Linked DNA regions of Homo sapiens. The protein of the gene in region 4 interacts with the protein of the main gene of each other region in a biochemical or structural test. Each region holds a gene or a part of one and is shown on either strand. Other genes may lie near its edges. The genes, in order: EIF5B, SQSTM1, LRRC59, CSNK2A1, CLNS1A, MAP1A and ANP32B.

Region 1 (2,719 bases), on a different chromosome or scaffold from region 4:
GCATGGCTCCAGCCTGATCGACAGCTTGTCTCAAAACAAAATAAAAAAAAATTTGAGTGTTCTAGGATTTTATTTTTTTTGAGATGGAGTCTCACTCTGTCGCCCAGGCTGGAGTGCAGTGGCAGGATCTTGGCTTACTGCAGCCTCTGCCTCCTGGGTTCCAGTGACTCTCCTGCCTCAGCCTCCCGGGTAGCTGGGATTATAGGCATGTGCCACCATGCCCACCTAATTTTTCTATTTTTTGTAGAGACGGGGTTTTACCATGTTGGCCAGGCTGGTCTCAAACTCCTGACCTCAGGTGATCCGCCCTCCTCGGCCTCCCAAAGTGCTGGGATTACAGGCATGAGCCACACCGCACCTGGCCAGGACTTTTTTTTTTTTTTGCCAAAGTCAATTTTTATATATAAAAAGGAATAATTAGTCTTAAGGACCTTTCCTAATTCCTAATGACATTTCTTCTCTCCCCACCTTTAGGCTGATGCAGCAATCGGTGGAATCGGTTTGGAATATGGCATTTGACTTTATTCTTGACAATGTCCAGGTGGTTTTACAACAAACTTATGGAAGCACATTAAAAGTTACATAAATATTACCAGAGAGCCTGATGCTCTCTGATAGCTGTGCCATAAGTGCTTGTGAGGTATTTGCAAAGTGCATGATAGTAATGCTCGGAGTTTTTATAATTTTAAATTTCTTTTAAAGCAAGTGTTTTGTACATTTCTTTTCAAAAAGTGCCAAATTTGTCAGTATTGCATGTAAATAATTGTGTTAATTATTTTACTGTAGCATAGATTCTATTTACAAAATGTTTGTTTATAAAGTTTTATGGATTTTTACAGTGAAGTGTTTACAGTTGTTTAATAAAGAACTGTATGTATATTTTGTACAGGCTCCTTTTTGTGAATCCTTAAAAACTCAACTCTAGGAAGCAACTACTGTTTATTATACTAAAAGGCTGAAAAACCTCCAGGCCAGACTGCTAAGCTCTGAAATTCCTGAGAGGTCTCAGACCGGGATTCTACTTGTTCCAAGAAAGGGTAAAGCTTCTAAACCATCTTATTCTTGTCTCCAAGCATGAACACAGGAGCATGTTAAGAAAATCTTTACTACTTCTTCCATGCGGAGAAATCTACATATTTTGAATTAGAAACACCCTCACACCCACTTGAAGATTTTTTTCCTGGGAACATTATGTCCCGTAGATCAGAGGTGGTGTTGTCTTTTTGCTTCTACTGGCCATTGAGAAACTTTGATGATAAAAAAGAACGGTATAGATTTTTCAAACGTATATAAAATATTTTTATGTTATATGTTATGCCATAACTTTAAAATAAAAATAGTTTAAAATTCTATGCTAGTGGATATTTGGAACTTTTTCCTCAAACAAACACCCCACACTGACTTCAGCAAAACCCTAAAACTAGCTACAGATTACTACTACGAATGAATCATTAAGTTTTGTGTCTGCAACAATTTAGAAGCACTAAGCCCAAATATCAGGAAATGTGTGTATGATGGAATTTTCTAGGACAAAACAGATCAAGATTAAAACAGATCAAGATTAATGTATAAAAATCTCTACTAAAACAGATCAAGATTAAAACAGATCAAGATTAATGTATAAAAATCTCTACTGTTACCAGGTGCTGGCATACAAGGTAGTGTGATGATAGTTTAGTTTGTAAGATAATTCTTGTCCTAGGAGGACAACTTGTGGGAGAGAAGCTACACTAACATGGAAGCCTAACAGAGCTTGCTTACTGGTGGATGTCTGTTTTCTTTATTGGTAGTTTGGTTTAGAATTGTGATGATTACAATGGACTCGTGACTACACAAGCAGTAAAAAGCAGCCAGCTGTGCTTTTACACCATGGTTTCACACAAAGCAGCTAAAGAAATATCAGAATGCCTAATTTTCTATTTTATAAAAGCCCTAAAGGCATATGGCAGAAGAATGCTGGAAAAATCACTGTGGGAAGAATATGCATAAATAAAGAAGTATTTCTTACGTCAAAAAAGTCCCAAGAATCACAAAATCTGCAGAAGCTTGGTTAATCAAATACTGCAGTACTGATTTAATCAGTATAAAATCGAAAGAGCTTTAGATCTGTAATAAAAATCCAAATTTGGGGAAGGGCAAACTTTAAAACAGCAGCCAAGTAGAGAAGGGTTGGGGAAGGGAGAGGTGAGTGAACAGGCACATTGGAACTGTGGGGACATGTAACTGACCACTGTCAAACCAGTGTAAGTTTCTTGGTTTCTCATGGAAAACATTTTATACACCTATTTTTCTTCCTTCCATACTTAAGTCCATCAGTGTCCAAATACGTCTGTTCCATTTTTTGTCTGATTTTTGTTGGGATATTACAACACAGTATTGCATTTACTCCAGTTCCTGCTCCATGTGAAAAAATTAGATGATTTCAAATACTTTCTTCAGCTCCACAATAAGCTGCCAGTCACTCTTCTGCATTTCATCTCTGAACCAGTCTTTGAGTGCATCAATGGACTGCCGGCTGATCTGCAATGCCCGAGGCACAAACAGGGTAAACAGAACATAACAAACGTGCCAAAGAAAGCTGTGGCCCCAGATGCCCGCTCTCACTGTACTAAAAAGCTTAAGCAGAAATAAAAAACAGGGCTTGCCTGCCTAAGGGAGTAGAATTCCAAAATCACATCTGGTTTGCATGTCAGGCACGAGGGGACCTAAAAGTCCTAGC
Region 2 (3,500 bases), on a different chromosome or scaffold from region 4:
GCTGAGACAGGAGAATGGCGTGAACCCAGGAGCCAAGATCGTGCCACTGCACTCCAGCCTGGGCAACAGAGCGAGACTCCGTCTCAGAAAAAAAAAGACATCTGAGCATCTGCAAGATTATTCCTGTCTGTGCCAAGTGGGGCGTCCAGTTCAGTTCCGAGATGCTGCACCAGCACAGGTGGGTCTTGAGACAGTGTGACCCCAAGCACCTGGGCAGCCTCCCAGACAAATCCCAGGCCCCACCAACACTCACTCACCAGGATCAAAAAAGGTAAGGTCTGGGGATCTGCACTGTTTTAAAAGTCTCTACCTGAACCTAGACTTGGTTTTGTGACTTCCCGGGATGTCTCCTTTGTTCTTTGAGTGAAGGACTCTTGTTCATATCTCCAAATTCACCGGCAATCTCTCAGACCTTTACTACGTCCAGAGTGAGTGGCAGGATTTAGGCACAGCCGATCTCTCAATCATGACCTCGGTGTTCCACTGTTTACCCTCCTTGGAAAGCATTAAGAATACTGATTCTTGGCCGGGCTCGGTGGCTCACACCTGTAATCCCAGCACTTTGGGAGGCCGAGGCAGGTGTCGAGATCAGCCTGGCCAACACAGTGAAACCCCGTCTCTACTAAAAATACAAAAAATAGCTAGGCGTTGTGGTGGGCACCTATAATCCCAGCTACTTGGGAGGCTGAGGCAGGAGAATCGCTTGAACCTGGAAGGCAGAGGTTGCAGTGAGCCGAGATCACACCACTGCACTCCAGCCTAGGCGACAAGGGTGAAAGTCTGTCTCAAAGAAAAAAAAAAAAAAACAGACTAGCGATTCTTCTTTCCTATTCTCTGACTTCACCTCTAAACTCTAGTACAGAAGCCATGCGTGTTTGGGCTGTTTAGTTCAGAAGCAATGCCAAGATGTCACTGCCGCCTCAAAGTGGAATGAGCAAGGCCAGGCGCAGTGGTTCACACCTGTAATCCCAGCACTTTGGGAGGCCAAGACGGGTGGATCACCTGAGGTCAGAAGTTCAAGACCAGCCTGGCCAACGTGGCGAAACCCCGTCTCTACTAAAAAAATACAAAACTTAGCTGGGCGTGGTGGCGGGTACCTGTAATCCCACTTACCCAGGAGGCTGAAGCAGGAGAATCACTTGAACCCAGGAGGGGGAGGTTGCAGTGAGCAGAGATGGCACCACTGCACTCCAGCCTCCGTGACAGAGCAAGACTCCATCTCAAAAAAAAAAAAAAATCGGAATGAGCAAAGTTGGAGCAGATGGCAGTCACGCCCTGTAGCCACAGGAGGCAGCAGGCATGGTTCGGACGCCCCTCCTAGCAGCATTCTTTCAGACACTGAACACAACCTTTGGACAGGCTGGGTGGACACAGCCTGCCACTGCAGTCACAAAAACAAGCTCACTCGTCTAGCGAGAGATGCAGGTGTCCCAGCGATCCATCTGCCATCACAGATCCACCGTCATCTTGAACTAGAAGTTGGCTTCATTCACTGATTCTCACTGCCGCATGCCTAACCCTGCAGCACCCACCCGAGACCCTTAGCCAGACGCAACAGGCACTTTCTAAAGCCCAGCAGGGAGGGGTCTCAGAGCCTGAGCTCATGCCTGGGGTCAGGTGGCACCTTCACCCACCCCACAGACCCACTGTGCAACCTGAGGCACCAGAACCGGGTGTCACCCAGAGCACCTGCCTCCACCTTCTCCCCGCTCTGAGGCAGGCCCAGCACTCAGAAGCACCAGAAAGGTTTGGGGGTTGTAAACTAAAAGAAGGAAAAGATAAATAGCATGTCAACTAACTACTACCCAGGTCCTCAAAAGTCCAAATCCCAAGGCCTGGCTTAGGGGAAATTGCAGACTATTGTTCATCCAAAGGAGGGCAGTCAGAGGTGACAGGCAAGACCTGCAACCACAGTCTGGTCACCCTCCCTCACTGGGATTATCCCAACCAAATGCCAGCTGATTCGACTTCACTCCATGTAGAAAGCTCGAGAATTTTGTCAGGGAATTCAACCTTGAGTTGCCCGTGGTCCAGCACTACTAAAGGTTGATTTGAGGCAACAAATCCTCACCAGTGTCAAGGGCATGTCAATTACCCATTCCTTTGCAGTATTCCAGGTGAAAGTTACATAAAGTGCAGGCTGAGTTAGGGAAGCACTGGGCAAGGAGGTGCACTCACCCAGAGGGCTAAGGGCAGCTGCCACACTCTCCCCAACGTTCTTCAGGAAATTCACACTCGGATCCTCCGATGGACCAGAAGCTTTGATTTTTACAAAGATAAGATAAAGATATCTTTAATGCCTTGGATACCTGTCACAGTCCTGTCACCTTCTTGCCAAGGTCCCTGTGTTCCCGGGTGACCTTTAACCCGGACATCTTGTCCAGTGACCCACTCAGCATCCCCCTCTCCTTCCTCCCACTCTGCACCCCCTGGCCCTGCACAGAGAGCATCTCCACTCTCCCGTGCCATCTCCCCCTCATCTGTGACCCTGGTGCTCAGCAACCCCACAGAGGCTCAGGCTCAGTACACTGTGAATATTGATCACCTCCTTGAGTAAATATGTTATTTACTCAAAGTCAAGCAAACATCCCCATCTTTGTCCCAAAGGGTGAGGTGATTCACAGGACACAGTAACATTAATAAAATCAGAATCCAAAAATCTAGACTACAAAGCTAACGGTAAGTCTTTCACTTATAACTATGTTTCAAAGGACTTCAGCAACTTTGGCTCTGATCTTCCTGACAACCATCACAAAAGAGAACAAAGTGCATCAAAGACCCCTGGGCTGGAAGGGCCTCCCTGCCTGCACCTCAGGGTACCTTGAGAGGGCAGCCTCCTGAGGTAGGAAGGGCTGTGCAGGTAAATTTGTGGCCTCAGGCACTTAGGCACCTCAGTTTCCCCATTTGGGAAATGGAGAGAATACACCCCACTTTGCAGGGTTCTTGTGTGATTGTAGGGCACCAGGAAGGTGGGGGGTATCCTGAATTCTTGCCTTGCACACACGCTTTGCACAAGGGCCCTGCACACAGGCTGCCTGACTACTGTCACCAATCAGAAGCAGGTTCCAACACAAGCCTCACCTGATTCTGCCGTGGGGCCAGGGCGGGCCTCCCCTGCACGAGGAGGACGTGGGCTCCAGTTTCCTGGTGGACCCATTTCCCATCCTGGCCACCCGAAGTGTCCGTGTTTCACCTTCCGGAGCCAGCGGCTGTGCGAGAAGCCCTGGGGGAGGAATTAGCAGAGCGGCAGGCAGTGAGCGGGTCAAGGTTCCTGCCACCCTGAGCCCACCCCAGGCCTGCACAGAGGGCCTGCTCACCTCAGACAGGTGCCCGAAGGGGCTGGGGAATGCGAGCTTGGTGTGCCCCCGGTGCAAGCCCTTTCCCTCGCAGACGCTACACAAGTCGTAGTCTGGGCAGACGCTGCACTTGTAGCGGGTTCCTACCACAGGCCCATTGCAGCCATCGCAGATCACATTGGGGTGCACCATGTTGCGGGGCGC
Region 3 (3,500 bases), on a different chromosome or scaffold from region 4:
ATGAAAGGTGTGTATATGCTGAGGGTTTCTTGTGTCAGAGAAATGAAAGTAATGCCGACTCCTCAGGGCTCTGAGGATTGTGAGATGGTGCATGGAAAGCATCCAGGACAAGGAAAGAGTAATCAATGGTAGCTACTGTCAGCTTGCAGAACAGACATCACTCCTACAGCACCTAGTTTTCAAAAGAGGATTTCACTGATCACTTATACTGTTCTCATCTAAGGGAAAACTCTTGTCTTAGCTACTTGGTTAACTTTGTGCTTGATTTGTTGTAATAAGAGATGATACAGATGACAAGATTATATAAGAAGCCCTGAGCTAATGATAAGAAGTATCTTACTCTCTTACTCTCTACTTGAGACAGCAGAGACTCATCATTCACCCATGAATTCTAGTATTTAAAGTTAAGTCTTTTTTGTTCAACATGCACCTTAAACATAGCCAAGTTAGTCATCTGGTGCTCAGCTGAAGCAGCAGCAATCTGTTCCAAAGCTGGAGGGAAAAAGTGACTATAGTTGGAGTTATTAAGAGATAGGTGTAATGCTGTTCTTAATAGGTAGGGTACGGCACCTTCCAGGCTACTGACCACAGACAATAGTTGTCTTGCATGCTGCTTTCAGTTCCTCACTCCTATGTCAGATGACTCAACTGTAATCAAATACCAGGTCTGCCCAGGACGTGCCTGCTTACAGCTGTAACACCTTTATCATCGCTTTTATTATCAACATTCCTACGACTGTGCCTCAGAAAGGCCACAGCCCCTAACCCCCGGTACTATTAAAACAACTGTCCACACAGTGTCATGTTGCATCACGCAAGGTCCCGGCTCCTTAAGAGAGGAAGTACTGCAGTAGAGAAGGCAGTCTTGTTCTGCGACTTGCGAACTAAGTGCAGGCCAGGCATGGTGGCTCACGCCTATAATCCCAGCACTTTGGAAGGCCAAGGTGGGCGAATCATTTGAGGTCGGGAGTTGGAGACCAGCCTGGCCAACGTGGCGAAACACCATCTCCACTAAAAAATACAAAAATTAGCTGAGCATGGTAGCAGGCGTCTGTAATCTCAGCTACTCGGGAGGCTGAGGCAGGAGAATCGCTTGAACCTGGGAGGCGGAGGTTGGAGTGGGCCGAGATTGTGCCACTTGCACTCCAACCTGGGCAACAGAGCAACTCTGTCTCAAAACAAATAAAAAACAAAAAGATAAAGTAAATGCAGAAACAAAGGTCTCTGTTTGACAGGCTCATAGTGGACATATTTCACTCGGACCTGAATGCTTAACTCCACACAAAGCTCCAGGTGCCCTAGGAGGGAAAAACAGGAGGAGGAGAAATCCCAGGGAGTGTATAAGGAGCCACTGGGAGGGAGCTTGGTGCTTACCTTGTTTGCACACTGCTTACACTGCTTCTCATCCAAGCAGTCACCTGCCACCTTGGCCAGGACAGGATCCAGGGGGTTATCCTTCAGGTCCAACCACTTCAGGTTCTAAAGAGATGGGCGATGGGCAAAGAGGCTCATTAAGCCCGAGTTCACATACATAGTCCCTCAGGGTGAAACAAAATGAGCAGGAAGAATGCCCCTCTGTGTTCCACATATAGGGAGCGCCATCTGAGGCAGGACCAACAAGGGGGTATTTCTGTCAGCCTTTCTCAGGGCCGTGCTCCAGAGTCCCTGAGTTCTCTGCCACCCTGGCCATGAAACACTGGTTCATGAATTGTTACCTTGAGCTGAGCAAAGCTGACAGGCAAGGTGACCAGCTTGTTGTTGAGGAGATCCAGGTGCTGGAGGTTGACCAGACGGCCAAAGTCTGCTGGCAGCTGCTGCAGCTTGTTCTTACTCAGGTCTAGCTTCACCAGGTGTGTGAGGCCACAGAAATCCGACTAGGATCCAAAGAGAGAACCTAAGCTAGGCTTGTCCAACACACGAGCCACGACAGCTTTAAATGTGGCCCAATACAAATTTGTAACCTTTCTTAAAACATTACGAGATTTTTTTTCCTTTTTCAGCTCATCAGTGTATTTCATGTGTAGCCCAAGACAACTCTTCTTCTTCCAATGTGGCCCAGGGAAGCCACAAGATTGGAAACTCCTCATCTAAGCCTTGGGCTCACACACTTCGGTGTAACAGTCTGGAAGCCCTCAAGTCAGAGGTACCCCATGTAAAAATCCTGGCTCTACTGTTAGCAGCCGTTCTTCCTCAAATGAAAATGCAGAGAACACCTACCACACCTGGTGATAATTACCAAGATATGTATGGAAAAGGGCTTAGCACAAAGTAGGCACAAAACACTATTCCTTCACCCTCAGTTCTTGCTCCAGCCTACCCTCCACACTGCTCCTGGAGAGGTGTGGTTACCCATTCTGTCCTTCCACAGCACCCTATGCTCACCATTCATAGGATCTGTCAAAACAGCGTGCTCGTTCATTTTCTTAAAAAGATCAGGCACTCCTGGAGTACTCAGTCTGATTCTTGTTATTTGCAGCACCTAGCACAGTACTTAACACAGGTGCTCAACAGACATTCTGTGAATAACTAACTGAACGGGCTGGGGTCCATCCTACCCAAGTCCTGGCTCTTTCTCAACACAGGTCAAAACATCCCCCTGACATTAAACCTTTGCTAAGCACCCATCTGAAAGCGATGGTACAACCTCAGCTAATGAGGCACTATTCATGCTCTCTAGGGACTTGGAAATGCCAGTGGATCTGAAATGCAGAGTGAAATGGAAGTTGTCAGTACAGACAACAGAACAAGCTCAGATCGAAAAGTGCACTTGGCTGAATGACCATCTGGCAAAGTGTACAGAAGGAGTGCGGCTGCAAGGAATTGCTAACCTGCTTTTATTTTTAATTTTTTAGAGGCGGGATCTTGCTATGTTGTCCAGGCTGCTCTCAAACTCCTGGGCTAAGTGATTCTCCCACCTCAGCCTCCTGAGTTACTGGGATTATAGGCATGAACCACAGCTCCCAACATATTCTTCTTTTATTCAACACAAAATACTTTCTGGAAGAAGTGAGATCTCGATGCTTTTTGAATGTTAGAAACAGTTTTTGATGAGCTGTGACAAGGTACTGTGGACGATGAGCAAGGCCTAGGAGAATACTGAGAGGTGAGTGGACTAATAATCCAATGAGGACATTGCCAACTTCTGAATTCGACCTCTGAGCCACAGCCAGGGCCAAATAGGAAGTCACCCTGGAGTACAGCAAGGAGTGGCACGGCTAGAGTGATGGGTGGAAGTGGCAATAGCACACTTAGGCCTGACGGTGCAGGAGCACTACTATGTCAGAGAGGCTGAGGGGCTGAATGAATCCACTGTCTACACAGGTGGAGTGGAAGGAAAACTAGCAGACGTTGTGCAAGAAAAATAAAAAGGATTTGATCATGGATTGAATGTGCTGACCACATTGAGCAAATCTCAACTAATTCAAGTCCTTTGGGAGAATAATGATAAGGTAGCCCATAAAATCACCTTCTTTCTTGCTCCCCATCAAAAGATGCACAAG
Region 4 (3,500 bases):
CTATGCAAGAAAACATTATCACCACGAATGTAAAGAAGCTTGCCGACCATAGCAACTGTTGCTACGTAGGGTTTTTTAATGTCTAAGACTGAAAGACAGAATTTGTAGAAACCAGTTAAAATGCCACTCTTAGCAGTATCTTGTGATACTGTGAATGCTTTCACCTTAAACTTTTTAAAAGACTCAATCTTTGACTTCTACATGTGAAAAAAAAAAAGTACATCTGGGAGCACTCAACGTAAGAAAACTACCAATTGTCTATAACCCAATGAAAATACATCCTTTGTTACAATGACAGCAGCTACTTTTCCTTAATAATCCTAGAGGAATTTCTTCATTTGAAAAGCTGGCTGGCCTAGATTTCTCTATAAACTAAATGACATGCTACTTTCGAAATTATCCATTTCAGAAGTTCAAAGAAATTCAGGTATAAGAACACATTAATACTCTCATGAAACAAACCTTATCCAGGTTACCCACGAATTGTGACAGATCAAAACCCAGTTTCTCATTTCAAATCAAGTATCACATTATTTATTACCTTAAAATACTAAGCCCTTACCTAATTCAATGGCAAATCATATTGGTTTTCAGTTTCTGAACTTGTACAAATCATACTGTAATATTTATGCAAAAGTTGTCATATAGTTGAATATTATAGACAGTTAACATCTTTTTTTTTTTTTTTTGAGACGGAGTCTTGCTCTGTCCCCCAGGCTGGAGTGCAGTGGCGTGATCTTGACTCACTGCAACCAACCTCCGTCTCCCAGGTTCAAGTGATTCTCAGCCTCCTGAGTAGCTGGGACCACAGGCACGCACCTCCACACTCAGCTAATTTTAGTAGAGATGGGGTTTTACCATGTTGGCCAGGCTGGTCTTGTCCTGACCTCAAGTCATCTGCCCACCTCGGCCTCTCAAAGAACTGGGATTACAGGTGTGAGCCACCATGCCCGGCCAACAGTAGAAAAGGGTACTCAGGGAACATAGTTCAAAAGTCATGATTCTCTATTGGCTGGACCAGGATTCTAGACTAGCTCTAGGGCTGAGATATCTTAGTAGACCAGTTAACATTCATGTGGCCCAATTTCCCTTACTCTAAACCCAAAGTCAAACATAACCTCTAAAGTCTTTCATACCCTGAAATGCTAATCTTGTAATCATCTTTCTATTCAGGTAATAACTCAAAAGAAATGGTCTCACTTCCTTCATCCTCTGACTAAAGTTTAGTTAGTCCATATTTTATGAATCCAATTAATAGGATACTTTAAAGAACAAAAAGAAAAGACTTTTCTTAAAAGCTAGAAACTCCATTCTGTAGTGATGATTCCCAGATCTGACTCTTAAACTCAACAACCTCAACAGACAATGACAGGGAGAAAAGATCTTACAAGTTTGAGCTGAGCTGGGGTGGGGTGGGAGGTGTGAGAGAACAGAGAGACAGTTACAAATTCACAAAAATGTATCACCCATTTCCATCTCCTCTAAAAAAATATGAAATAAGCCTTAAAAGGCTGTCATAGAAACCCATTATTAAGCCAATAAAAACTAATGAAGAAATTATGTCATTTATCCAAGATATGGAAGAACCACCTATTTACAGAAATCCTACCAATGTCCTAGACCTTCAGAAACTACATCTCACTAAGCTGACCATCAAGCCCCTTCAAACTGCATCTAAGGACAATAATAATATTCAAACATCAAGAAACAGGCACAGGTTCCACTCAACACCATTATTCCGTGGAGTCTTCCAGGACTAAATTGTTTTATAGAATCTTTGCTATCTTTGTTCTCTAGAAAATGATATCCCAAAGACTCTAAAATAAAACCAGCAAAACCCCTGTATTTGTTTTCCATTGTGTCATAACAAATTATCACAAACAAAACAACACAAATGGATTATCTTACAGAAGTCAGTGGGCTTGACTGGGTCTCACAAGGGCTAAATGAGGGTATCCAGTGGGTGGGTTCCCTGCTGGAAACTCTGGGGAAAATTTGCTTCCACATTCATTCAAGCTATTGGCTGAATTTAGTTCCTTGCAGCTGTAGGACTGAGTTCCCACTTCCTTGCTGGTTGTCAGCTGGGACTGGCCTTTCCTACTAGAGGCTGCCTGCATTCCCCGTCTCACACTTTCAATCTGGTCCCCTCCAGTAACGGCAGGCTGAGTCCTTCTCATGCTTCAAATTTGACTTCCCCTTCTGCCTCATCTCTGACACCAGCCAGAAAAAGTTCTCTGCTTTTAAGTGCTTATGTGAGTAGAATAAACCCACCCAGAAAATCCAAGATAATCTACCTAAGATCCTTAACTTTAATTAAATCTACTTAACATATTCATGTTCCAGGGTTTATAGTATGGAAATCGTAGGGGAGCCATTCTGCTTACCGCAGTCTGCCTTCTGGTTTCCAAGGATTCATCTCTCTCTCAAATGCAAAATACATCCATCCCATCCCAAGGTCCCAAAGGTTTCCCATCTAAAGCTTATCATTTCAGAAGTCCCAAATCTCATTCATCTATTCAGGTGTGGATGAGGTTCTGGGGACAAAACAGTAAGTCCAATTCCTGGGGCACAATTCCTAAAGAAACAAGTTCTCTACTCCCAACATACCACTGTGAGACATGTAGAGAATAACAGTTAGACATTCCAGTTCAAATGGGCAAAATGTAAAAGAAAACAGAGCCTCCGGTCCAAAGCAGTTTCAAAATCTAGGGAATCTCCATTCCATTTCAAAGCCTGGGAAAAATCCTCTCCAGCTTTTAGCTCCACCCCTCTGGGCTCTCCTATCTCCGTCTGAGTCACCCTGATTCTTTTATGAAAAGCAACACATTCACATGTGAGTAGTTTTATCAGCCTGCTTCCTATCAGTAGAATTTGGGGGGTCCAACAGCCCTATTACTTTCTGTCTCTTTCAATCCAAACTAGAACTGTTTATGTTGGCATAAAATTCTCAAGAACCTAATGGGCTGTGGAAGTATTCCACATGGGTCCACTCCATTAAAGTTCACATTCACAAATAAACCAGGCTGCACATTTAATACTTTGCTTGGAAATCTCAGCTAAATATACAAGTTCATCACTTGCAAATTTGGCTTTCCATATAACCATAGGATACAATTCTGCTAAACTTAGTTGCTACTATGTAACAAGGATCCCCTTTCTGCCAGTTTCCAATAAGAAAGACCTCACTTCTGTCTGGGCCCTCACTAGCAGAGTCATTAACATCCATATTGCTACTAAAAGTATGTCCTAGGCCTTTTCTTTTTTGACAGGGTCTCACTCTGCCACCCAGGCTGGAGTGCAGTGGTGCCATTACCGCTCACTGCAGCCTTGACTTCCTGGGCTCAAGCGATCCTCCTGTGTTCCAGGCCTTTTCTATCATGCCCCTCAAAACAATTCTAACCTTTATCTACTGCCACTTTCATTTTTAGGTAATAGTACCCCACTCCTGGTACCAAAATCTATACTAGTGTTCTACTGCTGCCATAACAAATTACCACAAA
Region 5 (3,500 bases), on a different chromosome or scaffold from region 4:
AAATGATCCAGGTTCTCAAGGTGTAGAGAGAGAAGCTTGTTCTCTGGGGGCAGCTGCCTCAGCTTAAAAGACTTTCCTGACCATCCACTTCCCTATCTACCATTTTCTTTCCTCCCATATGCTCTACTTACCCATTCTTCCCCATAACAATCTCTATTTCTTACACTCAAAAATTTGTCTGTTGCAAAGGGCTTTGGCATAAAGTGTTCTACCGTGTCATTCTATTTTAATAATAATCTTACCAGCCAGGCACAGTGGCTCACACCTGTAATCCCAGCACTTTGGGAGGCCGAGGCAGGCGGATCACCTGAGGTCGGGAGTTCAAGACCAGCCTGACCAACATGGAGAAACCCCATCTCTACTAAAAATACAAAATTAGCCTGGCGTGGTGGCGCATGCCTGTAATCCCAGCTACTTGGAAGGCTGAGGCAGGAGAATCGCTTGAACCTAGGAGGCAGAGGTTGCAGTGAGCCGAGACCACGCCATTGCACTCCAGCCTGGGCAACAAAAGCGAAAACTCCATCTCAAAAATAATAATAATAATTTTACCATACTGCATACTTTACAGTCATATAAAGAACTATAATCCTCTACCCTTAATACAAATAAATGCTTAAAATGAAACACTAAACAAACAAAAAACCCACTTTAAAATCCATTTCACTAACCATGTGCTTCCACATCATATTCTTCTCCATCGTAGTCATCTGAATCCTCATCCTCAGGATCTGGATGCAAGGCCTGGCATTCGCACATTGCAGTGAACATTGCCTCCACTGAACAAGGAAATTAAACTGTAACCAATCTTTTTTTGTAATAAAAGTAACCATCAGTGCAAATAAATTTAATGGGTACACAAAACGCCACAGTATTTACAAAATCTGCCAAATTGTAAGATCAATCTTGAAAGCGGTTGAAGCAAAAGACAAGTCATAAAATAATAAGAGTTCATTATGAGAGATCATTGCAATCTCTTCATGGCTCGTGGGATTTTCCAAGAAAAAAGGGTCAGAGTCCTGGTAAGACTGCTGGCATCAGGGTGAAGGGTGAAGACTGCTCTCAGCTGATAGGGCTCTTTCCAGCCATCCTGAGATCTTCCACTTTAAAACTGCCATAACTCCTCTGCCATCCAGCAGGTGAGATTAAGTCAACAGCACCAATCAGTAAAACTAACCAGAGTCCACTCACAAAATATACCCAGATGACAGAGTGTCTACAATATTCTCACTACATTCACAACCTTTGATATTAATAGGTATTTGGTCCTTAATGATATTACCAATGCTAAAATAAAGAAAAAGCAATAGAATGGAGGTAATGGTGGTAAAGGTGAGAGGTGTGTGTGTGTGTGTATGTGTGTGTGTGTCAATTGGGAATGCTTGGTATGTAAAAGGGGAAGAATCAATACTGTAGAACACTCACACGCTGATTTATCACTAGGCACAAATCTAAATTCAGTAATAGGTTCAACATCATCATCACTGTCTTCCTCTTCTTCATCAGCAACAGGTTCTTTTGATTCTTCTAGAAAATAAAATACCCTTTTAATGTCATTATTTGACTTTAAAAAAATGAAGCATATTGAAAATCTGAATATTGCAATTCAATTTTAATTTCCAATTATGGTTGACAAATTTATTTCCAATTATGGTTGAAAAATTCTGATTATACAGTGAGCATCCTAGAAAAGCCTTGCCTCGATCTCCTGACCTCGAGATCCACGCACCTTGGCCTCCCAAAGTGCTCCCTCCGCGCCTCACCGGGAATGAATTTTTAAGGTTATTTTTAAGGTAATCTAATCTCATCAACAATGAGCTAAGGGTCAACTTTTTTTTCTGAGACTGGGACTTGTTTTGTTGCCCAGACTGGACACCCTTGCCCTCTCAGGCCCAAGCGATCCTCCCACCTCAGCCTACTAAGCAGCTGGGACTACAGGCACTTGCCACCACACCCTGCTAATTTTTGTTTTTTTGAGATGGGGTCTTACGATGTTGCCCAGGCTGGTCTGAAACTCCTGGGCTCAAGTGATCCTCCTGTCTTGGCCATTCAAAATGCTGGGATTGTGGCTGGGCACGGTGGCTCACGCCTGTAATCCCAGCACTTTGGGAGGCCGAGGTGGGCGGATCACGAGGTCAGGAGTTTGAGTCCAGCCTGGCCAATATGGTGAAACCCCGTCTCTACTAAAAATACAAAAATTAGCAAGGCGTGGTGGCAGGCGCCTATAATCCCAGCTACTCAGGAGGTTGAGGCAGGAGAATCATTTGAACCTGGGAGGTGGAGGTTGCAGTGAGCCAAGATCACAGCATCGCACTCCAGCCTAGGTGACAGGGTGAGACTCCATCACAAAAAAAAAAAATGCTGGGGTTACAGATGTGAGCCACTATGCCCGGTCCTGATGGTCATTTTTTTTTTTTTGAGACGGAGTCTTGCTCTGTCGCCCAGGCTGGACTGCAGTGGTGCCATCTCGGCTCACTGCAAGCTCTGCCTCTTGGGTTCACCCCATTCTCCTGCCTCAGCCTCCTGAGTAGCTGGGACTACAGGCGCCCGCCACCACACCTGGCTAATTTTTTTGTATTTTTTTTAGTAAAGACGGGGTTTCACCGTGTTAGCCAGAATGGTCTTGATCTCCTGACCTCGTGATCCGCCCGCCTCAGCCTCCCAAAGTGCTGGGATTACAGGTGTGAGCCACCGCGCCCAGCCCTGATGGTCATTTTTAAAGAGACTTACAGAGGTATGCCAAAGAGAAAAAAAAAAAACTTAGAGCTTAGAGAATCAGAATGCAAGGAACAAAGGCTGGGAAAATATGATTCAAGCACATGTAATTTATGAGAGGAGTTTAAGATAAAAAGAACTAAAGGGCCAAGCGAGGTGGCTAACGCCTGTAATCCCAGCCCTTTGGGAGGCTGAGGTGGGTGGATCATGAGGTCAGGAGATGGAGAGCATCCTGGCCAACACAGTGAAACCCCAACTCTACTAAAATACAAAAAAAAAAAAATTAGCGGGGCGTGGTGGCGGGAGCCTGTAGTCCCAGCTACTCGGGAGGCTGAGGCAGAAGAATCGCTTGAACCCAGGAGGCAGAGGTTGCAGTGAGTCAAGATCGCATCACTGCACTCCAGCCTGGCGACAGAGCAAGACTCCATCTCAAAAAAAAAGAAAAAAAAAAAAGGAACTGGAGAATTAGTGAAATAAATGTGACCCAGAAAGATACTAATTTCTAGTAAGATAGGAAATCCTGCATATCTTACTAAGAAAGGATTAATCATAATCACATCAATTACAACCAATCATATAGATTCTGTATGATTATAGAGCACATATTTAAAACACACACCCTAAAACCTACTGAACTGCTTTTTCCTAGTTTAGGACTCAGAGCATTTGCATTTTAAACAAGCTTCCCATGTATTTCTAATGTGTATCCATTAGTCTTGAGTTTGGGAACAAGAGACTAATATACTCCCTTAACTTTTTGGATGAAATTCAGGCTCAGAGAAATGCAA
Region 6 (3,500 bases), on a different chromosome or scaffold from region 4:
GGAGGAAGGGATGCTTGTGACTGTGTCAAGCAGCAGGGAGCTCTTGCCTGTCTCCTCTGTCTGGGGAGCTGTAAGTGAGGCCACAGATTGGTCCTCAGCCACTGATGTGGCAAAGGAAGAAAGTTTGTCACACTCAGTGATTGAAGTGGCCGAGGACACATGTTCCTCTTCAGCCAAAGGGGCAGCCACTATGTTAGTGGGGTAGGTGAGTTCAGTCTCTGGCGTTCCATAGACTTTGCCAGAGGTAGCAGGAACAGCACTATCGGCAGGTTGGCTGGCTTCGAATGGGCCAGCACCTTCAGGCCCGGGCAGGTCATATGTACTTGTATGAAATCTGGGTGGAGCTGGGCGCTCCTCCGGCTCATCATGGATCTCCTCATCTGAGATGGTCTGCTCAGTCTCTGAGTAGCCAGGGATTGTCTCATCCTGGATGTAAGAGACATGCTCAGTGGCTCCTGCAGGTGTGGTCAGGCTGCTTAGGAATAACGAGGTCTCCTTCTCAGGGGCCTTGCCCTGGAGTCCCAATTCCCGACCCCCAAAAGCCTCCCGGCTCCTTGGAGTTACCTTCAAGGGTTCCTGCATATGTTTTTGGTAAAAACCCTCAGCTTTTGTCGCGTCCTCTTCCTCCTCATCTGAAGGGTGTACCTCCTCCATTTCTTCTAACTCAGCCTTTTCTATCACATCCTCCTTTACTTCAGGTTCACTTTCCTCTCTGGCTTCTGTTCTGTCTGGGAGCCTCTCTGCTTCCCTCTGCTTCTTTTCCTCCCAGGTATCTTTCTCTTCCTCTGTTTCAGCCCCAGAGTCTAGGCCTCTGTCCTTGCTGCCTTGTTCCTCAGGGACCTCTGGGACAAGCTCTTTCTCCTTCATCACATGTTCTTCTTGTCCCAGCCCTGGAACAGAGGGTGGTGTTCCCTGGATAGCTGTACTTGGGGGTCCCTCCTCTGCAGTGTCTAGAGGGAATGGCTTATCTCCTAGTCCTGTGTCCCTTTGTTCAGCCAGCAAAGCCCTCTCCTCACGCTTCATCTCCTCAAAGTCCTGTGTGAGGTCCTCTGGTGAGGATAGGACCAGCTCCCTGTGCCCACTGATGGTTGGGAGTGGTACAGTTCCCTTCTGGGCTGGGGGTGTCTGGGGCTCAGAAGACAGCTCCTTCTCCCCACGGATAGCACGGCTCCTGTCTATTTTGACTCTTCCAGGGACCTTGGCTTTATAGAGGGTCTTACGTACCTCAGGAGTAAAGGGCTTTAGGTCTGGCTTGGAAATCTTCTTGAGCTCAGGTTTGGTATCTTTCCTCTTCTCCTCCTTCTTGGCATCCTTCTTCTCCTCCTTCCTTCCTTCATCCTTCTTGAGCTCTTTCCTCTCCTTTTTGATCTCTTTTTTCTCCTTGTCTTTTTTTTCTTCCAGCTTTGATATCTTTTCTTTAAGGTGCTTTTTCCCTACCTTGTCTTTGATCAGCTTTCGCTTCTCTGCCTTCAGTGCCTCACTTGACTCTGTCTTCACCCTCTCAGGCTTGGCAGGCTTCTCTGGGGGCTTCTCAGATGACTCTTTTGCCTTCTTCTCTGTCTTGGCTAACTCCTTGGCCAGCTCTGAACGTGCCTCCTTGGCTCCCTCTTCTACCACCTCCTCCCGTTTGGCCAACTTGCTCACGGCCGTCTTGGTAGTGGCTTTGAGGCTCTCCTTGCTATCAGCCCGCTGTTTGATTTTGCTGGGCTTGAGGTTGGTAGGCACAGCCCCAGAAGCCAGGTCCTTCTGCGTGGCCACAGGGTAACGCAGGAAGTCCAGATGCCGAAGCTTTTCTAGGCCCTCCAAGATCTTGTTTTGGGGAGCATTTCCTGGAAAAAGCACACGCACAATCTTCTCAGTGGGATTGGCTGGTAGCCAGACCACCAGAGCAGTGATAGAGGTAAGGTAGGGCACGGAGATCTCAGCCTCCTTCCCATTGGGCAGCACGATGCCTGTCTTGGCTTTACTATTGCCTGCCCACTTTTGCATGAGGAACTGCATCTCCTTGCTGTCCTTGACAGGGTTGAGGACATACATGTCCAGCCGGCCCACACCCATTTTGTGGAAGAGGGTCAGTGGCTCAATGGTATTGCTGACCACACGATATAGAGGCTCAGCCTGGATGCCCAGGCGGTTTAAGTGCTGCAGAGTGAGGCAGGCCTCCTCAATGCTACGCTTGGCTTTCCGGGAGGCATCAGGAAGCCGCAGCTTCTCAGGCACGTTGAAAAAGACAACTCCAAGCTCAGGAGAGATAAGGTTCTTCACCCAGTCGCTGTAACTGCTAGAGCCCTGGGACTGCTCCTCCTCTAGCTCTGCCACTTTGCGCTGCAGTAGTCCATTGATGCCTGGCAGGTTGTCTGCCCCAATGTGTGTGAGTAGCACCGAGTCAATGCGGTCCAAGTGCCGTACCAGCTTCCAAAAACAGGACTTGCGATCAGAGCCACCATCCACCAGGATGTTGAAACCATTGACAGCAAAGAGGGCAGAGTCCCCACGACCACCTGGGAAGATGTAGCAACAAGGCTTGGAGAGCTTGAGGAAGCCCCCTGAGGTGGGGGGCTCTAGTAGGTCAAATGGGGATGGCACGTCCACAGTCTCAGAGACATACTCGGAGAACTCAGCCACGCCGTCCATGGTGGGCAGAGTGGGCTCAGGGTTTAGCCGGAGGTGCAGGGTCTCTTGGGAACTGGATAATCCCAGGTGGCTCCAATCACCTTCCCCTAAGCAGGACACGGTAAGGAAGGCCTGTATCCCAGGGTCTCTATTGCTGAGCAATTGGGAAATCTAGAAGAATAGGAGATAGAAACCTGATCAGGTCACTAGAGTTGTTTTGGTCTGACTTAGATTCAGTACCCTAATCTTCACCTCTTTCCAAGGTGGACTCTTACCTTTCTGCCAGGGCCCCCCATGGTCATGCAATATGAGACTTTCCCTTAGATCCCTCCCACAGCTCTAGTGCTACCCTTTCTCCCAGACACTCTGGCATGGAACTTACCTCGGGGTTGTGAAGGACCTGGGCAAAGTTTTCATATGAGTAGGTGCCACTCTGTAGGATGAGGTCTCCCCCAGGCTCTAAACTTTGCCCACTCAAGATTAGTAGTTTATAAGCTGATGAGCTGCTAAGAAGATGATGAACCTGGAATGGAAGAAGGGGAGTGGTCACAGATATAGGAAATCCAGGGAAAGGCAATGAATGGCCCCTCAGTACCTCAAGAACATGCTCCCAACTTATGTCCCTCATAACACCTCCAGAGTGGGCTGGAGACAATACGTCAGCTTAGATGGCAGAGAGAGGAATTCTTGGCCTAATAGTGGTAGCACTGGCAAGGGTGGGTATAGCACTTGCACCAGGCCTGTTTGGCAAGGCACAGGCCCTGGCCTTACCTCAGAGCTGATGCTGTCTGCACTGGGATTTACCAGGATGATGGTCTCTAGGATCTCACTCTGGTGGCAAAGGGTCCTCTGGCCTGAGGGAGAGATGTAGGAATTTATATTGAGAA
Region 7 (3,500 bases), on a different chromosome or scaffold from region 4:
TGTGATGCCTCACCAGTGCTCCATGCATTTTGCCCTTTTTCCTATTACAGGTATACCCAGATACTCGGGCTCTTACTAGTTTTATTCGTTTCCTTCAAACCAACCCCCATTTCCAGTATTTAAGCCGACATTTACTGACTTTTGCTGCATCCAAGGACATGAACATTTGCCCATTGTATCCTTAAGTAACCCAGAGAAGAGAGAATGACTGTCCTCTTTTTAGAGATGAGGAAGCTGAGTTTAGAGAATGTAGATAATTGCTCAGGAGAAATGGCAGAGTAGGGATTCAAATCTAAGTCTAGGCTGGGCACGGTGGTTCACGCCTGTAATCCCAGCACTTTGGGAGGCCGAGGCGGGCAGATCACTTGAGGTCAGGAGTTTGAGACCAGCCTGGCCAACGTGAAACCCCATCTCTACTAAAAATACAAAAAAGTACCCAGGCGTGGTGGCAGGCGCCTATAATTCCAGCTACTTGGGAGGCTGAGGCAGGAGAATCACTTGAACCCAGGAGGCGAAGGTTGCAGTGAGCTGAGATCATGCCTCTGCACTCCAGCCTGGGTGACAGAACAAGACTCCATCTCAAAAAAAAAAAAAAAAAAATTCGAAGTCTGCTGTGTTTTCCATAGCCCTTGGGACCTCTTCTTCTCTTTCCACCTGTAAATTTATTTCATGCCCAAATTTCCTTAAGCTGGGAATTCCAACAGGAGCACCAAATTTTAACTGCTGATGCTTTCCCGTTCACATGGGCTACACTAAGCCTTTGTTTATTGGTTAGTGACAGACATACTAATCCTAGGTTGTGAGCATAAGAAACCCTTCTCCCCGCCACCCCCCTTTTTTTTTCTGGTTTAATTTTTTTTTTTTTTTTTTAGACGGAGTCTCGCTCTGTCACCCAGGCTGGAGTGCAGTGGCGCCATCTCGGCTCATTGCAAGCTCCGCCTTCTGGGTTCACGCCATTCTCCTGCCTCAGCCTCCCAAGTAGCTGGGACTACAGGCACCTGCCACCATGCCTGGCTAAGTTTTTTGTATTTTTAGTAGAGATGGGGTTTCACTGTGTTTGCCAGGATGGTCTCGATCTCCTGAGCTCGTGATCCGCCTGCCTCAGCCTCCCAAAGCGCTGGGATTACAGGCGTGAGCCACCATGCCTGGCCTTCTCTTTTAATTTTTAAAGAACAGAGTAGCAGGCAGTACCTTTTCACTGTTGGCCAGTTGATGACTGGCCATTACCTAGTTCTCGTGGCAGCCTGAATCCTCTGATTATCAGAAGCCTTTTTCAGTGTTGTAGCACACAGCAATGGAGCAGAAGCAAATACTGTGTGGGAGTTGTTTGCTTGAGTTTTTTCCTGATCTGGTCAGTAATGTATGAGAGGACCCTCTGGTGGCTGTGAAAGTCTCAGTCCCCCAGGATAGTGAAGGATAAAAAGTAATCTTCGTTGTGTTCACCATTTTTAGAGGATCTGCTATACCCATACATTTACTGGGTGCTTTATGCATGTTTTATTAGTAATTGTAAAAAAAAAAACCTTCGATACAAAGTGGATAGAAATAGCATGGCCCTTGTTTTATATTGAGGAAGCTAAGGCTTGGGTGAGGCTGAATCCCTTGTCCAGAGTCACACACCCTGTGGCAGAGCCACAGGGCTACACACCAGAGCTATTTCGAAAAGCCTGGGGTCCCGCCATTCTGCTATACTTGGCACTCAGATTCCTGGCGGTGCTAGGTTGGTCTCCTGAAGTTCTAACTTGGAATTAAGTAAATCTGTAGGAGAAGGTGAAGGGGGGAAGAGTTGGGTCCATTTTGACTTCTGGCAGTATTCTTCAGTGGGGAAAAACACCATCCTCATCCTCATTAACCACATACATTTTGAACACCGTCTACTTTGAGCCCAGTTCTTATAGTCAATGCAATGATTGTGAATGCCTCTGCTTGCTACAGGGACATTAATCGAGAGACAAAGAAGGCATCAATTCAAACTTCCTTGGACACCTTTTTTAAGAGACCTGGGCCATCCAAACCATCCCCCAAAGCCCTTCTAAATTCTAAGAAGGCAAGCAAAATTATTGTTAATAAAATGTTTAATGTTTATTATGGCTAGCCTATTAGCTTACATCAAATTTCTGGTATGGTAGAGTTGTAATTTTTTTTAATCAGTATTTACACATTACATTGGGATCCTGAATAATCTGTGTGTAGTGTATTTTGTGCCTATTGGGCCTTAAAGCACAATTTTACTACTTTCAGCAGTTCCAGAGTACTACAGTTATTTGGGATTTTTGTTGTTTTCTTGCTTTCATTTCATTTTTCAAACTACTGATTGGCATGTCCAAATTGTTTGAGAAGGGGTGCTTTGCCAGGAAGTAGCCAAAAATCTCACATAATTGTACAGTTTCAGAAACAGGAGAGCCTTGGAGGCCCTGTGTACTGGAAGAGTCAATGAAACTAGATAGAGAAAGGGCTTTTGGTATTAAAAAGCATTAGATAAATATCAGAGGTTGTATGTGTTTTTGTGCACCTATTTCTAGGAAATAATTCTGAAATATAAATGGCTCATTCCTTTAAGTGGAGAATTTTTAGAGTGAACCTTTTTGGAAAAGCTGCCTAAAGCTGACTCTAGCTGGCATCGAGTCAGCCTTTGTGAAGAGAAAGCCAGTATGCTAGCTAGCCATCTGGGGTGGCATTGCAGCATTTTTTTCCTCTTTGGCAAGAAGTCATACCTGGGCTTCTGGAAGTCAGGGCCTGACTGGAAGGGAAGCTAATCTGAAAATTACATGATACAAAAGCAGCTCTATGACCAGAAGGGCTGGGGACAGCTTTCTTAAAACGTCAAGGAACTGACTATATAAGCACATTGTTTGATCCACAGACTCTTGGATCATTGTACAATTTGTGTTTTGAGGGGTGCAACGTTTTCCTGTTGCTGTAACCCTGCTGTGTGTTCCCTGCATGAATAAAACAAGTGTGGGAGCCTCTTTCTTCATCAAGAAGATGAAGTTCTTCATGTGCAGGGGTCAGTAGCCCTTTTCTCTAAGGGCCAAATAGTAGGTTCATTTGGCTTTGTAGCCTGTTTATATAGTCTCTGTCACAACTAGTCTGCTTGGCCATTTTAGTACATAAGGAGCCATACATAAATAAATGAGTGTGACTGTGTTCCAATGGAGCTTATTTTACAAAAACAAGTGGTGGGCCAGAATTGGCCACTGGACCACCGGTTCCCAACCCCTGCTCTAGAGCCTTGAGGCAGATTTTCACACCATTTTATATCTCCTCAGAACTACATAGATACCTTGAGTTCTGAAAATAAGGTTTTGTTTTGTCTGCATTTCTTCTCAGGTCCTTGTGAGTGTTGTAACAGCTTTCCTAATAAAGCAGCAAAACCTGTTAAGCATCAACATTTATTTTTTTAGAAATTATTTTATGTGGAGGTCCTCTTAAAGTTTGTTTGGGTGTTTTTAGTACTATCTTCTTAGAGAATACCGAAGTTTTTCTCTTGATTCAGAACC

Evidence for each region.
Region 1: of the proteins of CSNK2A1 (region 4) and EIF5B, one has a biochemical effect on the other in vitro, tested with the Homo sapiens proteins (one large-scale study listed by BioGRID and IntAct).
Region 2: of the proteins of CSNK2A1 (region 4) and SQSTM1, one has a biochemical effect on the other in vitro, tested with the Homo sapiens proteins (2 studies listed by BioGRID).
Region 3: of the proteins of CSNK2A1 (region 4) and LRRC59, one has a biochemical effect on the other in vitro, tested with the Homo sapiens proteins (one large-scale study listed by BioGRID and IntAct).
Region 5: of the proteins of CSNK2A1 (region 4) and CLNS1A, one has a biochemical effect on the other in vitro, tested with the Homo sapiens proteins (one large-scale study listed by BioGRID and IntAct).
Region 6: of the proteins of CSNK2A1 (region 4) and MAP1A, one has a biochemical effect on the other in vitro, tested with the Homo sapiens proteins (one study listed by BioGRID).
Region 7: of the proteins of CSNK2A1 (region 4) and ANP32B, one has a biochemical effect on the other in vitro, tested with the Homo sapiens proteins (one large-scale study listed by BioGRID and IntAct).

Annotation. Positions count from the first base shown.
Region 1 is NC_000002.12:99,399,108-99,401,826, reverse strand, and holds the end of EIF5B (eukaryotic translation initiation factor 5B), read right to left. Parts: intron 2,521-2,719; coding exon 2,413-2,520; 3' UTR 587-2,412; downstream 1-586. Other genes in the region: DNA repair protein REV1, read left to right, coding at 475-586. UniProt on the Homo sapiens protein: Plays a role in translation initiation.
Region 2 is NC_000005.10:179,823,905-179,827,404, reverse strand, and holds part of SQSTM1 (sequestosome-1), read right to left. Parts: coding exon 3,318-3,500; intron 3,224-3,317; coding exon 3,082-3,223; intron 2,260-3,081; coding exon 2,179-2,259; intron 1-2,178. UniProt on the Homo sapiens protein: Molecular adapter required for selective macroautophagy (aggrephagy) by acting as a bridge between polyubiquitinated proteins and autophagosomes.
Region 3 is NC_000017.11:50,391,024-50,394,523, forward strand, and holds part of LRRC59 (leucine-rich repeat-containing protein 59), read right to left. Parts: intron 1,875-3,500; coding exon 1,716-1,874; intron 1,480-1,715; coding exon 1,375-1,479; intron 1-1,374.
Region 4 is NC_000020.11:537,291-540,790, forward strand, and holds part of CSNK2A1 (casein kinase II subunit alpha), read right to left. Parts: intron 1-3,500. UniProt on the Homo sapiens protein: Catalytic subunit of a constitutively active serine/threonine-protein kinase complex that phosphorylates a large number of substrates containing acidic residues C-terminal to the phosphorylated serine or threonine.
Region 5 is NC_000011.10:77,624,295-77,627,794, forward strand, and holds part of CLNS1A (methylosome subunit pICln), read right to left. Parts: intron 1,525-3,500; coding exon 1,423-1,524; intron 777-1,422; coding exon 669-776; intron 1-668. UniProt on the Homo sapiens protein: Involved in both the assembly of spliceosomal snRNPs and the methylation of Sm proteins.
Region 6 is NC_000015.10:43,520,608-43,524,107, reverse strand, and holds part of MAP1A (microtubule-associated protein 1A), read right to left. Parts: intron 3,468-3,500; coding exon of another isoform or gene 3,385-3,467; intron 3,137-3,384; coding exon of another isoform or gene 2,996-3,136; intron 2,785-2,995; coding exon of another isoform or gene 2,635-2,784; coding exon 1-2,634. UniProt on the Homo sapiens protein: Structural protein involved in the filamentous cross-bridging between microtubules and other skeletal elements.
Region 7 is NC_000009.12:98,000,341-98,003,840, forward strand, and holds part of ANP32B (acidic leucine-rich nuclear phosphoprotein 32 family member B), read left to right. Parts: intron 1-3,500. UniProt on the Homo sapiens protein: Multifunctional protein that is involved in the regulation of many processes including cell proliferation, apoptosis, cell cycle progression or transcription.